Linked DNA regions of Homo sapiens: region 1 is linked to region 2. The links come from fine-mapping of genetic effects on gene expression. A gene starts in region 2. The other region holds a variant in brackets. All regions are shown on one strand. Distances are from middle to middle. Region 1 holds the start of BIN2 (bridging integrator 2). Region 2 holds the start of SMAGP (small cell adhesion glycoprotein).

The links.
Region 1: its variant is fine-mapped to the expression of SMAGP in whole blood (INTERVAL, PIP above 0.99).

What each region holds. Positions count from the first base shown.
Region 1 is chr12:51,317,482-51,325,762 of GRCh38, forward strand. It overlaps BIN2 (bridging integrator 2), which reads right to left and starts at 6,693. Exons shown (of 13, transcript NM_016293.4): 1 at 6,541-6,693. The coding sequence starts at 6,621. It overlaps LOC105369767 (a long non-coding RNA gene), which reads right to left and starts at 6,527. Exons shown (of 2, transcript XR_944957.3): 1 at 6,247-6,527; 2 at 4,887-5,722. RefSeq lists enhancers at 1,404-1,463, 1,744-1,913, 6,219-6,408 and silencers at 3,164-3,458, 6,439-6,928. The variant T/A (reference allele first, on the strand shown) is at 3,159.
Region 2 is chr12:51,266,517-51,274,843 of GRCh38, forward strand. SMAGP (small cell adhesion glycoprotein) reads right to left here and starts at 3,899. Exons shown (of 4, transcript NM_001031628.2): 1 at 3,740-3,899; 2 at 2,729-2,800. The coding sequence starts at 2,762. RefSeq lists silencers at 3,168-3,837, 3,878-3,957 and an enhancer at 3,573-4,073.

The DNA.
Region 1 (8,281 bases), 51 kb after region 2:
ACATGGTGAAACCCCATCTCTACTAAATACAAAAAAAATTAGCTGGGTGTGGTGGTGCACGCCTGCAATCCCAGCTACTTGGGAGGCTGACGCAGGAGAATCGGTTAAAGGGTTGCAGTGAGCCAAGATTGCGCCATTGCACTCCAGCCTGGGCAACAGAGCGAAACTCTGTCTCAAAAAACAAAACAAAAAATTAAATTAAATTAAATTAAAAAAGAAAAAAAAGGCCGGGAGCGGTGGCTCACGCCTGTAATCCCAGCACTTTGGGAGGCAGAGGCGGGTGGATCACGAGGTCAGGAGATCGAGACCATCTTGGCTAACACGATGAAACCCCGTCTCTACTAAAAACACAAAAAATTAGCCAGGCGTGGTGGTGGGTGCCTGTAATCCCAGCTACTCAGGAGGCTGAGGCAGGAGAATGGCATGAACCCGGGAGGCGGAGCTTGCAGTGACCCGAGATAGCGCCACCGCAGTCCGGCCTAGGCAAAAGAGCAAGACTCCGTCTCAAGAAAAAAAGAAAAAGAAAAAGAAAAAAGAAATAGAGTATAAAGGGTGACAGCAGAAAGAGGATTCCAGTTAGAGACAACAGCATCAGGAAAATCATAGGAGTACACAGCTTCACTAGCTGGTTCAGCATGGCTGTTATGGGGAGTGGTGGGGAATGAAGCTAGAAAGGGAGACTGGAGTTTCATTGTGAAGGGCTTTGAATGCCATGCAAGAGTGCCCAGATCTGGGGAGTGTGGCAGGTTCTGTGGAGAGACTCTGATTCATATCTCCATTCTTTTTTTTTTTTTTTTTTGAGACAAGTCTTGCTCTGTCGCCCAGGCTGGAGTGCAGTGATGCCATCTCAGCTCACTGCAACCTCTGCCTCACCGGCTCAAGCCATTCTTCTGCCTCAGCCTCCCAAGTAGCTGGGATTACAGGTGCCCACCACCACGCCTGGCGAATTTTTGTATTTTTAGTAGAGACAGGGTTTCGCCATGTTGGCCAGGCTGGTCTTGAATTCCTGACCTCAGGTGATCTGCCCACCTCAGCCTCCCAGTGTTGGAATTATAGGCGTGAGCCACTGGGCCACCAGTATCTCCATTCTTAATCCGGGGGTGTGTCTCATTCCTGGAGCTCTTGCTGTAGTGGATAAGATCAAGCATTCTGGAGTTAGACAGATATGGGCTCCTATCTTGGCCTTTCTACTTACTGACTGTAAGTCTTCAGGCAAGTCATTAAAACTTTTGAGCCTCGGTTTACAGAACTCCCTTTCCCCCATTAGATAATATTTATCTCCTTGAGTTGTCAGGAGGATTAAATGATATTTTGCATGTAAATTGCTTTCTCAGAGCTGCCCTACAAAGAGCACTCAATAGGTACTCACTGTCATTATGTTTAGTTTTGCTCCCTTGCCTGTAAATGCTTATATTTTTGGTTTGGCCATATCTGTTTGGTTTGGCCATATCTGTTTTTGTCCGTCTCTAACTGCACCTCACTTGCCACCCAGCCCTGGATGTGCAGTCTGCCATCCTCCCTGGCTCCACCCTTCTCAGCTAACAAAACACTGTTCTCTACCAGAAAGTTGCAAAACCACCTTGTTAGTGGTAAGTGCAGCTCTTAACTTCCTTTCTGCTACCCCTCCCTTCCTTTGTCCCTAATTTGGTTCTTCTTAGGTGGAGAGGACAGAAAAAACAGAAAAGAGAAAACTCAGTCTAGAGTCAGTGTAAGGGATGACTGGGGCAGACCAATCTCCCCAATCCCCAAAAGGCTCAAGGCCAAAAGGCTTGGAGAGTGTGGGGTCGGGGGTTGGGGGGTACTGAGAGAAACTTCCTCACCCTCCAACTCTGAAAGTGAAAAGGTGTTACCACCCTGAAACATACCCCAGTACTCTGGAGCCAAAGTAATTTGTTGCCATAAGCAACAGGTACATGTTAGGGCACTTATACTGTGTCATGGGTGTTCTTCCCAACGAAAGACCCTTGAGGGAACAGGGTGTACAGATGCTAAACAGATGTTTGTTGAAACAATGAATAAATTCTACTTTTGGATCACTTCCTAATGAAAACCCATATAATGCTAATCCCTAAAATCCTGCTTTGAGAATTCTGTCCCAATTTATCTGGCCTGGCAGCTAAATTAGAATATAGATATTTAAGGAGAAAGAGCAAGAGCAAGGCAAAAAAGTAAATGTGGCAAAACGTTAACACTTGGTGAATCTGCATGAAAAATATTCCAGTGTTCATTGATTATTTATAACTTTTCTGTAGATCAGGGTTGGGGTGGAAATAGAGCTTTAAAAAAAATTACTACATATATCTTTGGTGGCTATAGTTCCCTACCATTGCCTCTCCCATAATCATTTATTATATTTTAGTTAATTCCCTCAATTGGGGTAATTTGCATAGGGCCTGGATATTTGATATTATAAAATTTTGCTAAAATTTTTTCTTAGGTGCAGTAAATTTTTGTGGTTATGTAGGAAATCTTTCTCTTTCCTTCCTTCCTTCCTTTTCTCCCTCTCTTTCTTTCTTACTTTCGAGACAGAGTCTAGCTCTATTGCCCAGGCTGGAGTGCAGTGGCACAATCTCAGCTCACTGCAACCTCCACCTCCCAGATTCAAGCGATTCTCCTGCCTCAGCCTCCAAGCAGCCAGGACTACAGGTGTGCACCACTAGGCTAATTTTTGTATTTTTTGGTAGAGATGGGATTTCGCCACATTGGCCAGCCTGGTCTCGAACTCCTGGGATTTCGCCACATTGGCCAGCCTGGTCTCGAACTCCTGACCTCAGGTGATCTACCCACCTCGCCCTCCCAAAGTGTTGGGATTACAGGCATGAGCCATGGCGCTTGGCCGGAAATCTTTATTTTTAGGATATATGATAAAGTAAGCTTTCCTTAAAAGGTCCTAATATACTTTTTCCAGCCTTTGCTCTGACCACTCCCTGTGCTCCAGCTGAGCTGTAGTTCTCACTCCAGTCTCCATGCCTTGCTTATGCTGGCACTTCTCAGCTAGAATGCTCTCTGATCACGTGTCTGAAAAACTACTAATCTCCCATAATTCCTATTTCAAATTCAGCCTCCACTATAAAACCTCTCGATTCTCCCCAATCCTTTTGTCCTCTGAATAGACCTGCATCTCTCAGGTCAGTTATTTTATTATCATTATTCTTTTT[T/A]TTTTTTTTTTTTAACTAGATCTTAAGCTTTTGGCAAAGCAAGAATGTCTCTTACCCCTAAATTCCCTGCTGGGTCCAGCCCAGTACCCTGAACAAAGGAGTTTTTCTGTAAATATTTGTGGAATTTAACCCTCTGGGATTTAAGCTGAGTAGATGTCAACAGAGGAGAAGACCAACAAAGGAGTGGTAAACAACGCCCCTTCTCAGGGGGATCTGAGAGGTTTGCCACAGAGAAATCACAAACAGATGGTGAAAGCAGTACTATAGTTGGAAATGAGAAGATGTATCATACTAAAAACACACACACACACACAAACACACACACACACACTCTAAAGCCAGCTTAAATTCAGTCCCATGTTGAGTTTGGGCGGGAAATGGAAAACAGACCAAGAATGTTTCATCCCTATTGTGTTTAATGGTCACCAGACCTCCACTCCCAGCTTTTCAGAGGATGCCTGAACAAAAAGTGTTTCTACTTCTGAGCTCTGTTCCTGAGAGAGGATCAGCAGGAAGTGGGGGAGGCACAGATGTGAGAGTGGCTTATCAGGAACGTTGTAAAGCAGCAGCCTGAGTGAGGTTAGGATTCAGAGGCAGGACACCTGGGTTTCAGTAATATTTCTGCTACCTACCAATCTCTTTTGAGCCTTGTTTCCTTATTTCTAAAACAGAGATGCTAATAACCTGCTTAAAGTGTTGAATAGATGAAGGGAGATGACATCGGTAGAATGTTGGCTCCATAAAGGGAGAGAGAATCACTTTGTCTTTTTTTTTTTTGAGACAGAGTTTTGCTCTTGTTGCACAAGTTGGAGTGCAATGGCGCGATCTCGGCTCACGGCAACCTCCGCCTCCCAGGTTCAAGCGATTCTCCTGCCTCAGCCTCCTGAGTAGCTGGGATTACAGGCATGCGCCACCACACCCGGCTGATTTTGTATTTTTAGTAGAGACGGGGTTTCTCCATGTTGGTCAGGCTGGTCTCGAACTCCCGACCTCAGGAGATCCACCTGCCTGGGCCTCCCAAAGTGCTGGGATTACAGGCGTGAGCCACTGCACCCCGCTGATAATCACTTTCTTATATCCCTGTCTCTGGTCCATAATAGGCGCTTGATATTTGACACATTTCACTATTTGACACATTAGCTATTACTTATTACTCAGAAGATTACATCCAACTGCTTGCAGAAAAAGCAAAAAGTGTTGCAAGGAATTCTTTCATTTTAGTGCAAATTTCTCCCTCTTTATCTTGGTCTCAATAACTTCCCAAGACTCAAGGACTGGCTTCAGGCTGACGGAGCTGAGCTCCCTTCCGGCATCCCAGGCCATTCCCACCTTATCGAAGTTCAACCTTTGCCTACCCTTTTGTCTAGTCTAGGTTCAGAATATCTTGTTTTCTTCATCAGCTGGGAATTCCTCATGGCAGATTTGAGTTTGCTCCTCTTTCTCTACTTCCTCAGGGTTCAGGCCAGAAGAACCTGAGAGACTGGTTCTGTCTTTGGGAAGTATTTGACTCTGAGTCTAATGTGACAGCTTTTCAATTTAGTGTTCTTACCATATTGAGTTTCATCAAGAACATCAACCCTCTCATTTTACAGGTGCAAGATCTGAAGCCCAGAGCAGGACATTATTTAGCCAAGGTTTGGAGTCTATGCTTACAAAGGAGTGAAAGCCCAAAGCAAGGTTTTAGTGTTGACGAGAGGCTAGATGAAGACAGAAGATGCAAGAGTGAAATACAATCAATTGTATGTCTTTTATTTTTATGTATTTATTTTTATTTTTTGAGACAGAGTCTCCCTCTGCTTGAGTGTGGTGTGGTGTGATCACTGCTCACTGCAGTCTTGATCTCCTGGGCTCAAGCAGTCCTCCCACCTTGGCCTCCCAAAGTGCTGGGATTACAGGAGTGAGCCACTGTGCCTGGCTGGTATGTCTTTTTAAAATTACTATCATTCATGAGTGTTTTGTCTTTTAGGGTTTTTTTTTTTTTCAACCACAGTGTGGCCTTCTCTCCAGTACCTCCTGCTCGCCCACACTGTTTCGAGCTAGACCTTCCCATAGGCCCTGCTCTCGGGTCTACCAGATTTGTAAGTCTTCAGAGAGGCTGAAACTAGGATCAAGGTGAAGTTAGGGTAAGTGAAGTAACGAAGTCTGGCTACACGAACTCTTTCCCTTTTCCTCCTCTCTTTCACATGACCTCAAATGATAGAAAATAACCTCCCTTCCATTGTGGTCTCTTAAAGTCAGGAGCTACATCTACATTCCATCAGTTTTCTGCTGATAAATCAACTCGGGAGAGCTGGTTGCCTTTAAGCCTTCCCAGGGCTCAAAGCAGTGCTCCACTTTTAGAAGATAATAGGGATATTTCAGTTGGTAAGCAGAGCTGTTCATCCAAATGCTTCTAAGTCCATCAGCTCTTAGAAAACCAAAACTTCTCCGTTGTAGAAGGCAGGTTGGGCTTAATAAAGAGAGAGAGAAAAAAAGGAAAACCGAAACTCTATCTCAGGTCCTTCTTGTCTTTCTTCCCTCGCTCTTTCTTCTGGCTGACATGTCTTCCCAAACCGCCTTGTCTACTAGAGGGTTGGTAGGTGGAGAGCAGAGGCTCAGGTTAGAAGCAAAGAAAATATTCTGTACAGGTAGAAACAAAAATGCCATCAAAATGTGTAGAGAATGTCCCCACAATTTAGATTGCCAAGCAAGTAATAGATGGGCAGCCCACCTAAGTGCCAGTGCTGGAGCAGGGCTACCTGACACTAACCAAGGACACACTCTGAACACAGATGTGGTTCATCACCCTGGGAGGTGTACTCCCCAACGCCAAAGGGAGGGTAGAAGAAGCAGATTTGGGCTCCTGCTTACGTCAGCTGAAACACCACCCAGAGGCCAGGCAGGGTCAGGTAGGGGGAGAACTATGCAGGATTATTCTAAGCCTTTGGTGGGGGGTGCCTGCTGGCATCCGCTGCATCGCTGTTTTTGGGGAAATTGCCCTCTATGGAAAATTACCCTCCAATTTCATCATCTGTAAAATACCAATTTTGGATTGCTAGCACAAAATTTGATACAAAGGTGGCCACCACCATCACTTCCTTTCTTTCACCTTTTCTGGGTCAGCCTGAGGGTTGTCGAAGGTTCTGCCCAGAGACTGTTGTCTCCCCAGCTTCCCTTATCCTTGCCCAAGATCGGGTGGCGGTCTCCGACCTCTCTCCAATCTGCCAGTTTTCATGGAAGCCCACTCCTCGCTCCCGTTTCCCTGGGAGAGCGGGAGACCCTTCTCGTCAGCCCAGACCCTTCGGGGCCCCTGAGCACCCTGCCCGCCCCTCCTGCCCGGCCGGGCTCGGCCTCGGCCTCGGCTCCCTGTGGGCCAGACAGACAGCGAGGCCCGGCCACCTACCTTCTCCTGGGCCCTGCTAAACTTCTTCTGCACCTGCTTGGCGAAGAGGCCGGCCGCGCCGCCTGCCTTGCCCTCTGCCATCCTGCCAACTCCCTGGGGGCCGCCGCCCTGGCCCCGCGCCCTGTGGTTTTCTGAGGCCCCCGAGGAGGAAGTGCGGGCTCCCGGCATGCCTCGCATCCGGCCCCAGCCCTGAGCCACCTCAGGCCGCCCCTGGCCAGCCCTGAGGCCCGCCCCTCAGCCCACCACTGTCAGCTGGAGCAGGCCGGCTCGGAGGGGCGGGCCCGGGGCCTACCCTCAGGCAGCGCTCGCTCGAGGCCAGCTTCCGAGCTCCAACCCCTGCCCGAAACCTCGGCCTCACTGAACCAGGTCCTCAGTGGTGGGCCCACACTCACTCGCTCCGGAAAGCCAGTTCCCATCACGCTGAGCACTGCAAAGCAACTGCCACCGCAGGGTAGAAAATGATGTGGGTTCCACTCAGCGAGAGGACCTACCATATCGAAAACACGTTTAGGTTCTCTGAGTATGCATGCGAAGCCGCCATGTACACTGCGTTTCTTGCTCCAGGTAGGCTCTAAGCCTGGAACTGGTAGGGATAGAGTGCAGAAAGCAGGCAGGACACCCGAGCCGGGCTTGAAAGAGAGAAACAGGCCGGGCGCGGTGGCTCACGCCTGTAATCCTAGCACTTTGGGAGGCCGAGGCGGGTGGATCGCCTGAGGTTAGGAGATCAGCCTGACCAATACGGTGAAACCGCGTCGCTACTAAAAATACAAAAATTAGCTGGGTGTGGTGGCGCACGCCTGCAGTCCCAGCTACTCGAGAGGATGACGCAGGAGAATTGTTTGAACCCGGGAGGCAGAGGTTGCAGTGAGCCGAAATCGCGCCACTGCATTCCAGCCTGGGCGACAGAGCGACAGTTCGTCTCAAATAAATAAATAAATAAATAAATAAATAAATAAATAAATGAGGAACAACTAAGCTGGAGATAGAAACAGGGTAGGGGGCTGGTTCTTAGGCAAGAGAATGATCACATTGAAAAAAGGCTGAGGAGGATAGTATGGACGCCCGTGCTGAGCATGAGGAGCAAGTTTTTCTAGTTGGAGTACAGTGTACTGGATGGAGGCAGAATGTGAACACAGACACAGATTGTGCAAATTGGGGTGCGGCTGTTGAGATGACAACTATTGTTTCTTTAGGGAGAAGTTCTCCAAAAAATTCCTCCCTGACCTGTTTGAGGGGATAGCTTGAGATTAGGACACTAGGTGTGGAGGAACCACGTACTCAGATTTTACAGTGCAGGTTAAAATTTCCTCAAGGCAGGGAAGAAGGTCAAAATAACACTTCCTAAGGAGTGGAGGGGGAAGATAGGGCCTGACACAAAATTAGAGGCCCTTGTATGCTACTGTGTTCCTCTTCTTTCTCCAAAACAATCATTACTGCACTCAAGGTCAACTGTGTACCAGGCATTGCTGGGTGTTCTGAAACAAGGATGAATAAAATGCAGTCCCTGACCTTAAGATGCTTAATGAAGTCTGGCCGGGCACCACGGCTCACACCTGTAATCCCAACACTTTAGGAGGCTGAGGCAGGCAGATTGCTTGAGCCCAGGAGTTTGAGACTAGCCTGCGCAACATAGCAAGACCTTCTCTCTGCTAAAAATACAAAAATTAATTGGGCGTGGTGGCACACACCTGTAGTCCCAGCTATCAGGGAGGCTGAGGTGGGAGGATCACCCGAGCCAAGG
Region 2 (8,327 bases):
ATAAGACATTTTAAGTGAGAGAGACCATTTTCACATAACTCTTATTACAGTATATTGTTATAGTTGTTCTATTTTATTATTATTGTTAATCTCTTACTGTGCCTAATTTACAAGTTAAGCTTTATCATAAGTATGTATGTACAGGAAAAAACACAGTATAGATGGGGTTCAGTACTATCTGAGATTTCAGGCATCCACTGGGGTTTTTGGAATGAATCCCCTGTGGATAAGCGGGGACTACTCTACCACTGAATTGTCTGCGAAAAAATGGCTAAAATGGTAATACCTGTACTATGTTTATTTTACCATAAATTTTAAAAAAGAAAAAATGGCATGAGCCTGTAATCCCAGCACTTTGGGAGGCCGAGAAGGGCAGATCACTTGAGGCCAGGAGTTTGAGACCAGCCTGGCCAACATGGCGAAACCCTGTCTCCACTAAAAGTATACAAATTAGCCAGGCGTGGTAGCGCACGCCTGTAATTCCAGCTACTAGGGAGACTAAGGTGGGAGAATTGCTTGAACCCAGGGGGCGGAGGTTGCAGTGAACCGAAATTAAGCCACTGTACTCCAGCCTGGGTGACACAGCAAGACTTGGTCTCAAAAATAATAATAATAAAATTTAAAAAATGTAAACAGCTCCCCCTTGCCAAGGTTCTAATCCCTCAGCTAGCTGCCAAGGTATCACCTTTTTTCCCTTGTGGGCAGGATTATTCTGGAGGTCCTCTGCCCACCCGCTTCCTGAACATCCTCCAGGGTAAATCGTCTCTGTAGCTTCACACATGGTATGAGGTATTCTACCTTTATCTAGAGCAGGTACACACGAAAAAGGTATTCTACGTTTCTCTAAGATACCTGCTGCGCCCCTTTGCCTGTATGAACCTTGTCCGTCTTTCAAGGGCAAGACTCAGATCCCCTTCCTCACCCACCCATGAAGCCTTTGCTGACCTATTCCCCCCCCCCACTCCGTGTCCCCCTAACTCTTTTTTTTTTTTTTTAAGACAGGGTCTTGCTCTGTCACCTAGGCCGGAGTGCAGTGGCATGATCTCGGCTCATTGCAACCTCCATCTCCTGGGCTCAAGGGATCCTCCCACCTAAGCCTTTGGAGTAGCTGGAACCACAGGTGTCTACCACCAAGCCCGGCTAATTTTTAAATTTTTTTGTAGAGATGGGGTTTCGCCATGTTGCCCAGGCTGATCTCGAACTCCTGAGCTCAGTCTGCCTGCCTCAACCTCCCAGAGTGCTGGAATTACAGGCGTGAGCCACCATACCTGGCCATTTCTCTCTTTTATCTCTTCTCACCAGACAACTAAAAGTCTGAATTGTGTGCATTACCAGTCACAGAGGACACTGTCTTAGACTTCCACTGGTGGTGTCACTCACCTGTTTCCACATCAGTAAAAGCAGAGAATGCCTGTCCTAATGACAAATGTGACTGTGTATAGGAAGACAAAGGTGTATAGACCAACCAAGGGTTTGTTCCTCTCTCTCCCTAACTAGCACATGCTGAAAACAGTCAATAAATAACTGATAGTTTGTCCGGCCCAGCCTGATGATGAACTAAAAGGTGGGCATCCATTCTCAGAGTGCTGAGCAGTAGTGCCCGGCCTCCGCACACCTTCAGGGAACAATGGGGTTTTGATGCTGGGTCTGTATCACCAGAGGAGTGGAATGAGAAAGCCAGCAAAATCACTTTCAAGGGAAAGATGGGTTTCTAACAAGTACTCAGTGCTAATAACCAACGTGACTGAGTGCTTACGAGATACTACACACTCTTCTAGGTGTTTTATATGGGTTGTCTCATTTAATCTTCATAAATCATAAGATAGGTACTATTTTCCCTATTTTGTGAATGATGAAACCGGAGCTTAGAGGTTAGCAATACTATCTTTAGCAGGTTTTTAAAAAATGATTTCCCTGTTATCTTTGAAGATTCCTTTTCCACATTTAATTACAAGGGTTTCTGCTACATTCTTTGCCATAGCTATAAATTATTAGACAGATGAATGTAAAGCCCTTCCTTTAGGCTTATACAATAATCTTCCTTCCTTCCTTCCTTCCTTCCTTTCCTTTCCTCCCTCCCTTCCTATTTTTTGAGACCGGTCTCACTTTGTTGCCCAGGCTGGAGTGCAATGGCACGATCTCGGCTCACCTGTGCTTCCCAGGTTCAAGCGATTCCCATGCCTCAGCCTCCTGAGTAGTTGGGATTACAGGCGTGCACCACCACGCCTGGCTAATTTTTTTGTATTTTTAGTAGAGATGGAGTTTCACCATGTTGGCCAGGCTGGTCTCAAACTCCTGACCTCAGATGATCCGCCCACCTCGACCTCCCAAACTGCTGGCATTACAAGCATGAGCCACCACGCCCGGCCTCTTTCTTTCTTTTGAATTAGCAATGGGGTCTCACTATGTTCCCCAGGCAGGTCTCAAACACCTAGCCTCAAGAGATCCTCCTGTCTCAGTCTCCCAAAGTCCTGGGATTACCGACATAAAATTATTTGATAAACCGAGGTTACAAAGATTTGTGAAGTCACCATGTCCATGTGACTTCAGATTAAAACCGTACTAAGGGGCACACTCTAGTTCCTGCTTCCTCCCAGGCCCTTCCTGTGTGAGGCAGGCAGAGAGAGGTGGGAGTCTTCCCACCTGGGCTGAGGCTTCCAGGACTGGTCTGGGGAAGGGGATGTTGAACAATTCTTTCTCACTGGGATTAGGAAAGGCCTTCACCTACCTCTTGGAGAAGGAGTAGTCAGGAGGCTGGTCATTGTCACTAGTGGTTGAGTTTCTTGGAGAAGAGGCAGATCTGTAGGAAGAGGGGCAAAGACAGGAATGTAGCGGGTGGGCCCCTATGGCTTTGAGTCCTGGAAGTCCCAGGAAAGCCTCTGGTGCCAGGTTCTCCCAAGTCCCTTCCCCTTTTTCTCTTGTCCTCTTCTGGTTTCCCTGAATATCTCCTCAGGCTCCAGGTACCAACAGCTCTCCACAGGAGCAGGTCTGAGGCCGCATGCAGTTTGACGGGGTGTTACCTTCATACGCTCTCTCCAGGTCCTTTCAATGGGCCACCAAATTTACTTAGATCTCTCAAGGCCTGAGAAAGTCAGGCAAAGGTTCGCAAATCAGCAGCGAACCCAGTTTCGCCAAAGCGCGGTAACAGGTACCCTAGGGTTCCACAGCTAGGAGTTCTGGTGACGCCATCCACCAGGTGTCAGGAGAGGGCCGGGAAGGTCAGGACCCGCGCCCAGGCTCCAGAGCGGAGTGGGCGCAGCGCAGTAGCCGGGCCGGGACCGGGAGGCGACGGCCGTGGGCCGCCTTCTGGCTCGCCTCGGACGCTGGGACGCCGGACTGGCCGCCCCCTCCGGGCCTGCTTTCGCCGTCCAGGGCGCGGTCCGCGCACAGCCTGCCAAGCCTCACTGGGCCCCAGCCCGCGCCCCGCGCCCCGGAGATCCTCGACGCCCCTGCGAACGCGGGGTGGACGCGACGGGCTGGGTTGGTCCTCGCCCCGCGGCCCCGCCCCCGTCCCCGCCCCCGCCCCGAGCCCCCCGCGTTACCAGCACCCCGCGGAGCGCGCTGCGCTGGGGGCGGCCGGTGCGTCGGGGAGCGGCGTTCCCAGCCGCCGCGACCCTCTGCCCCAGCGGAGCGCTGAGCTTCGGCCGCTCCGGGTTTCGGTTCCTGCCACGGCCGAGGTGGCTGCGGCGAATGTGGGCGACCCGGCTCTCCGGCGCCCCCGCCCTTCCCTCGTGCTCACCTTTCCAGTCGGACGGGCTGCTGGTGAAGGGCCGGCGCCGCTCCGCGCGTCCTTTTGAACTCAACGGGGGCGGGCACCGCGGAGTCGCGGAGGCCAGCAGAGGCCGAACGAGGACCCCGAGCGGAGGAAGCCGCGGGTGGCGCGCGGGGTTGGCGCAGAGGCCGGAGGGGGTGGGGGGCAGGCCGACGGGGTGGGACAGGAAAAGCGGAGAGAAACCGCCCTCTGCAGGTCCCCTTGGCTCCCCCGGGAGGAAAGGCAGCCTGCCCTTCTCCGATTGTCACTTTACTCTCCATCCGGAGCCGCTTCCTTTCTCGCCGCGAGGCTCGGGGTTGGGGGGGGACCAGATTGGAGCCGCGGGCTAACTGGGATCCGTCCCATTTCCCTGGGCTTGACGTTCTCTGAATTTTTAGCTAATGTGGAAAGTTACATTTATTTGCATTTGTTTATCGCTTGCTCACATAGGTCTGTGTCCTGAAGCTTGGCAGATGAGCGAACTTAGCCAGCACACCCCCGGCCGTGAAGCAGGGAGGTGAAGCGGGGAGAGCAACGAGCCCCACCCGGGTCTTGCCAGCTGGACGTTCTTGTGGGGCAGCGTTGAGCAGCGGTTAGGAGTGCCGTGGACTTTGGATTCAAACAGCCCCAGCTCTTCTGCTTGCTAGCTGGGTGACTTTGGGCAAATTAACATCTCGAAAATCTGTTTCCTCATTCCTAAAATGCGGGTCTGAAAGTGATCATGCCTGTAAAGCCATCTCATATCCATGGTTCTAGAAGCATGGTGAGCACCTCAATTTGAATAATCAGTGCCATGCTTTAGCTACCTCTTGACTCACTCGTTTGTGGCAGGAAATGTTCCCAAATTAATCAGAAGAATTCAGTGACTAAGAGGATGTAATAGTATATAGCGCAGGCACTGGAATCAGCTCTGCTGTGTGATCTTGGACAAGCTGCTTCTGTTCCGTTTCTCTTATCTGGGGCAATACCTGTCTGAATAGAGTGACTGTTGGGACGAAATAGGTTAGTAAATATGTACTGTAAGGCATTAGAACCTTGCCTGGCACATAGTAAGTGCTCAATAAACGCTAGGTCTTGTTACCTTGGCTTCCCGTTTAGGATTGGAACCCTTGTGATTATTCTTTCCCTCCCAGTGATAGACTTCTGTGCTTACTTCGCACTCCTAGGCGTTCTGTAGGTTTGTAAACCAGTATTTATACAGAAATACTTTCTGTAGAAAGACAGGCATCATCAGATTGTGCATGTTAATCCGGGAACAGACCGAAAGGGAAGGTCTCAGAGGAGAGAGGCATAAAGGGAGAAAACAAAACAAAGTCACAAGCAAAGCAAGAGTAGTTGCTTTTATTCCTAAAGTGTTCATTATAAAAGAAACCAGAGGGCAGGGCACTGTGGCTCCCAGCACTTTGGGAGGCGGGTGGATCACTTGAGGTCAGTAGTTTGAGACCAGTCTGGCCAACAAGGTGAAACCCTGTCTCTACTAAAAATACAAAATCCGCTGGGCGTGGTGGCACACACCTGTAATCCCTGCTACTCTGGAGGCTGAGGCACGAGAATTGCTTGAACCTGGGAGGCAGAGGTTGCAGTGAGGCGAGATCACACCATTGCACTCCAGCCTGGGCAACAACAGCAAAACTCCGTCTCAAAAGAAAAAAACAAACACAAATACAGGAGGAAAACAAACAATAAAAAAGTGATGAAATTCATTTTATATAAATATATTGTGAGAAATATATGTAAATATGTGCATGGGAAAATGCCAATCCAACCAAGAAAGGCAAAGAAAGTGATATGCCAGCTATGCATATGTAACTTAATAAAAGAAAGGTGAGCCTGGCTTGTCCTTAGATAAGAGAATATCCAAGAGAAAAGGAAATTAAAATCCTAGAGGGCTAAATCCAAAGGAGGACAATTGCTGGCATTGACATACTTCTAGCTGTCCACCTTGATCATGAATTCCAGGAGAAGTTCAGATCGTTCTTGGACCTGGGTCTGTCTCTTTCACATTTTCTATTATGTGTTGAAGATTGTTTAGAACTATAGACTCAGCCAGGCGCGGTGGCTCACACTTGTAATCCCAGCACTTTGGGAGGCCGAGGCGGGTGGATCACAAGGTCAGGAGTTCAAGACCAGCCTGGCCAACACAGTGAAACCCTGTCTCTACTAAAAATATAAAAATTAGCTGGACGTGGTGGCAGGCGCCTGTAATCCGAGCTAATGGGGAGGCTGAGGCAGGAGAATCGCTTGAACCCGGGAGGCGGAGGTTGCAGTGAGCCGAGATTGTGCCACTGCACTCCAGCCTGGGCGACAAAAAAAAAAGAAAAAAAGAACTACAGACTCAGAGGCTATCTGGCTCAACTGACTGACTCTACTGATTTGCTGTCACTTTCACAATTTCGACAGTTGTTAGTAATGTTCTTTCAATAAGCATCTTTTTTTTCTCTTTAAAATGTAACTGGTGGGGCGCAGTGGCTCACGCCTGTAATCTCAGCACTTTGGGAGGCCAAGGCAGGCAGATCACCTGAGGTCAGGAGTTCGAGATCAGCCTGGCCAACATGGCGAAACCACGTCTCTACTAAAAATACAAAAATTAGCTGAGTGTGGTGGCGGGAGCCTGTAATCCCAGCTACTTCGGAGTCTGAGGCAGGAGAACCTTTTTGCACCCTGGAGGTGGAGGTTGCAGTGAGCCGAGATTGCACCAACGCACTCCAGCCTGGGCAACAGAGTGAGACTCTGACTCAAAAAAAAAAAAAAACAAGTAACCTTACACCTATAATCCCAGCACTTTGGGAGGCCACAGTGGGCAGATCACTTAAGCCTAGGAGTTTGAGACCAGCCTGGGCAACATGTTGAAACACTGTCTCTACAAAATACAAAAAAAGTTAGACAGGAGTCGTGGCATGCACCTGTGGTCCCAGCTAGTCAGGAGGCTGAGGTGGGAGGATCACTTGAGCCCTGGGGGTGAAGGCTGCACTCCAGCCTGGGAGATATAGCAAGATCCTTTCCCCTCAACCAAAAAAAAGTAACCTTAGGGAGGGAGGTGGGGATGATTAATGGGTACAAAAAAAAAAAAAAAAAGAATAAGACCTTAAGACCTACTATTTGGTAGCACAACAGGGTGACTATAAATAATAACTTAATTGTACATTTAAAAATAACTAAAATAGTGTAATTGGATTGTTTTTAACACAAAAGATAAATGCTTAAGGGGATGGATACTCCATTCTCCATGATATGATTTTATTATGCATTGCATGCTTATATCAAAACATCTCATGAGGCCGGGCATGGTGGCTCACACCTGTAATCCCAGCACTTTGGCAGGCGGATCACAAAGTCAGGAGATCAAGACCATCCTGGCTAACATGGTGAAACCCCGTCTCTACTAAAAATACAAAAAATTAGGCAGGCGTGGTGGCAGGCACCTGTAGTCCCAGCTACTGGGGAGGCTGAGGCAGGAGAATGGCATGAACCCGGGAGGCAGAGCTTGCAGTGAGCTGAGACTGTGCCACTGCACTCCAGCCTGGGCAACAGAGCAAGACTCTGTCTCAAAAAAAAAAAAACAAAAAAACTCATGTACCCCATAAATATATATACCTCCTATGAACCCACAAAAATTAAACATTAAAAAAATAAAAATAGGCCAGGCACAGTGGCTCACGCCTGTAATCCCAGCACTTTGGGAGGCCGAGGCGGGCAGATCACAAGGTTGAGAGATCGAGACCATCCTGGCCAACATGGTGAAACCCCAACTCTAATAAAAATACAAAAATTAGTCGAGCATGGTGGCGCATGCCTGTTATCCCAGCTGCTCAAGACGCTGAGGCAGGAGAATCGCTTAAACCTGGGAGGCGGAGGTTTCAGTGAGCAGAGATCACACCACTGCACTCCAGTCTGGCAACAGGGTGAGACTCCATCTCAAAAAAAAATAATAATAAAAATGAATAAAATGTAACCTTAGAAGGTTTGCTGATACTTGATTTTTTTTTTTTTTTTTGGAGACAAGAGTCTTGCTCTATCACCCAGGCTGGAGTGCAATGGCGTGATATCGGCTCACTGCAACCTCCGCCTCCCGGGTTCAAGCAATTCTTCTGCCTCAGCCTCCCAAATAGCTGGGATTACAGGCGTCTGCCATCAGGCCCGGATAATTTTTTGTATTTTTAGTAGAGACAGAGTTTCGCCATGTTGGCCAGGCTGGTCTCGAACTCCTGACCTCAGGTGATCCACCCGGCTCAGCCTCCCAAAGCGCTGGGATTACAGGCATGAGCCACCACGCCTGGCCTGATACATTATTTATTAATTTTTTTATGTAGTCACATACCTCATTTTATTTTTTGAGGTGGAGTCTCACTCTGTCGTCCAGGTTGGAGTGCAGTGGCTCCATCTCAGCTCACTGCAACCTCTGCCTCCCAGGTTCAAGTGATTCTCATGCCTTAGCCTCTGGAGTAGCTGGGATTACAGGTCCACACCACCAGGCCTGGCTAACTTTTGTATTTTTAGTAGAGACAGGGTTTCACCATGTTGGCCAGGCTGGTCTCAAACTCCTGACCTTGAGTGATCCACCTGCCTCGGCCTCCCA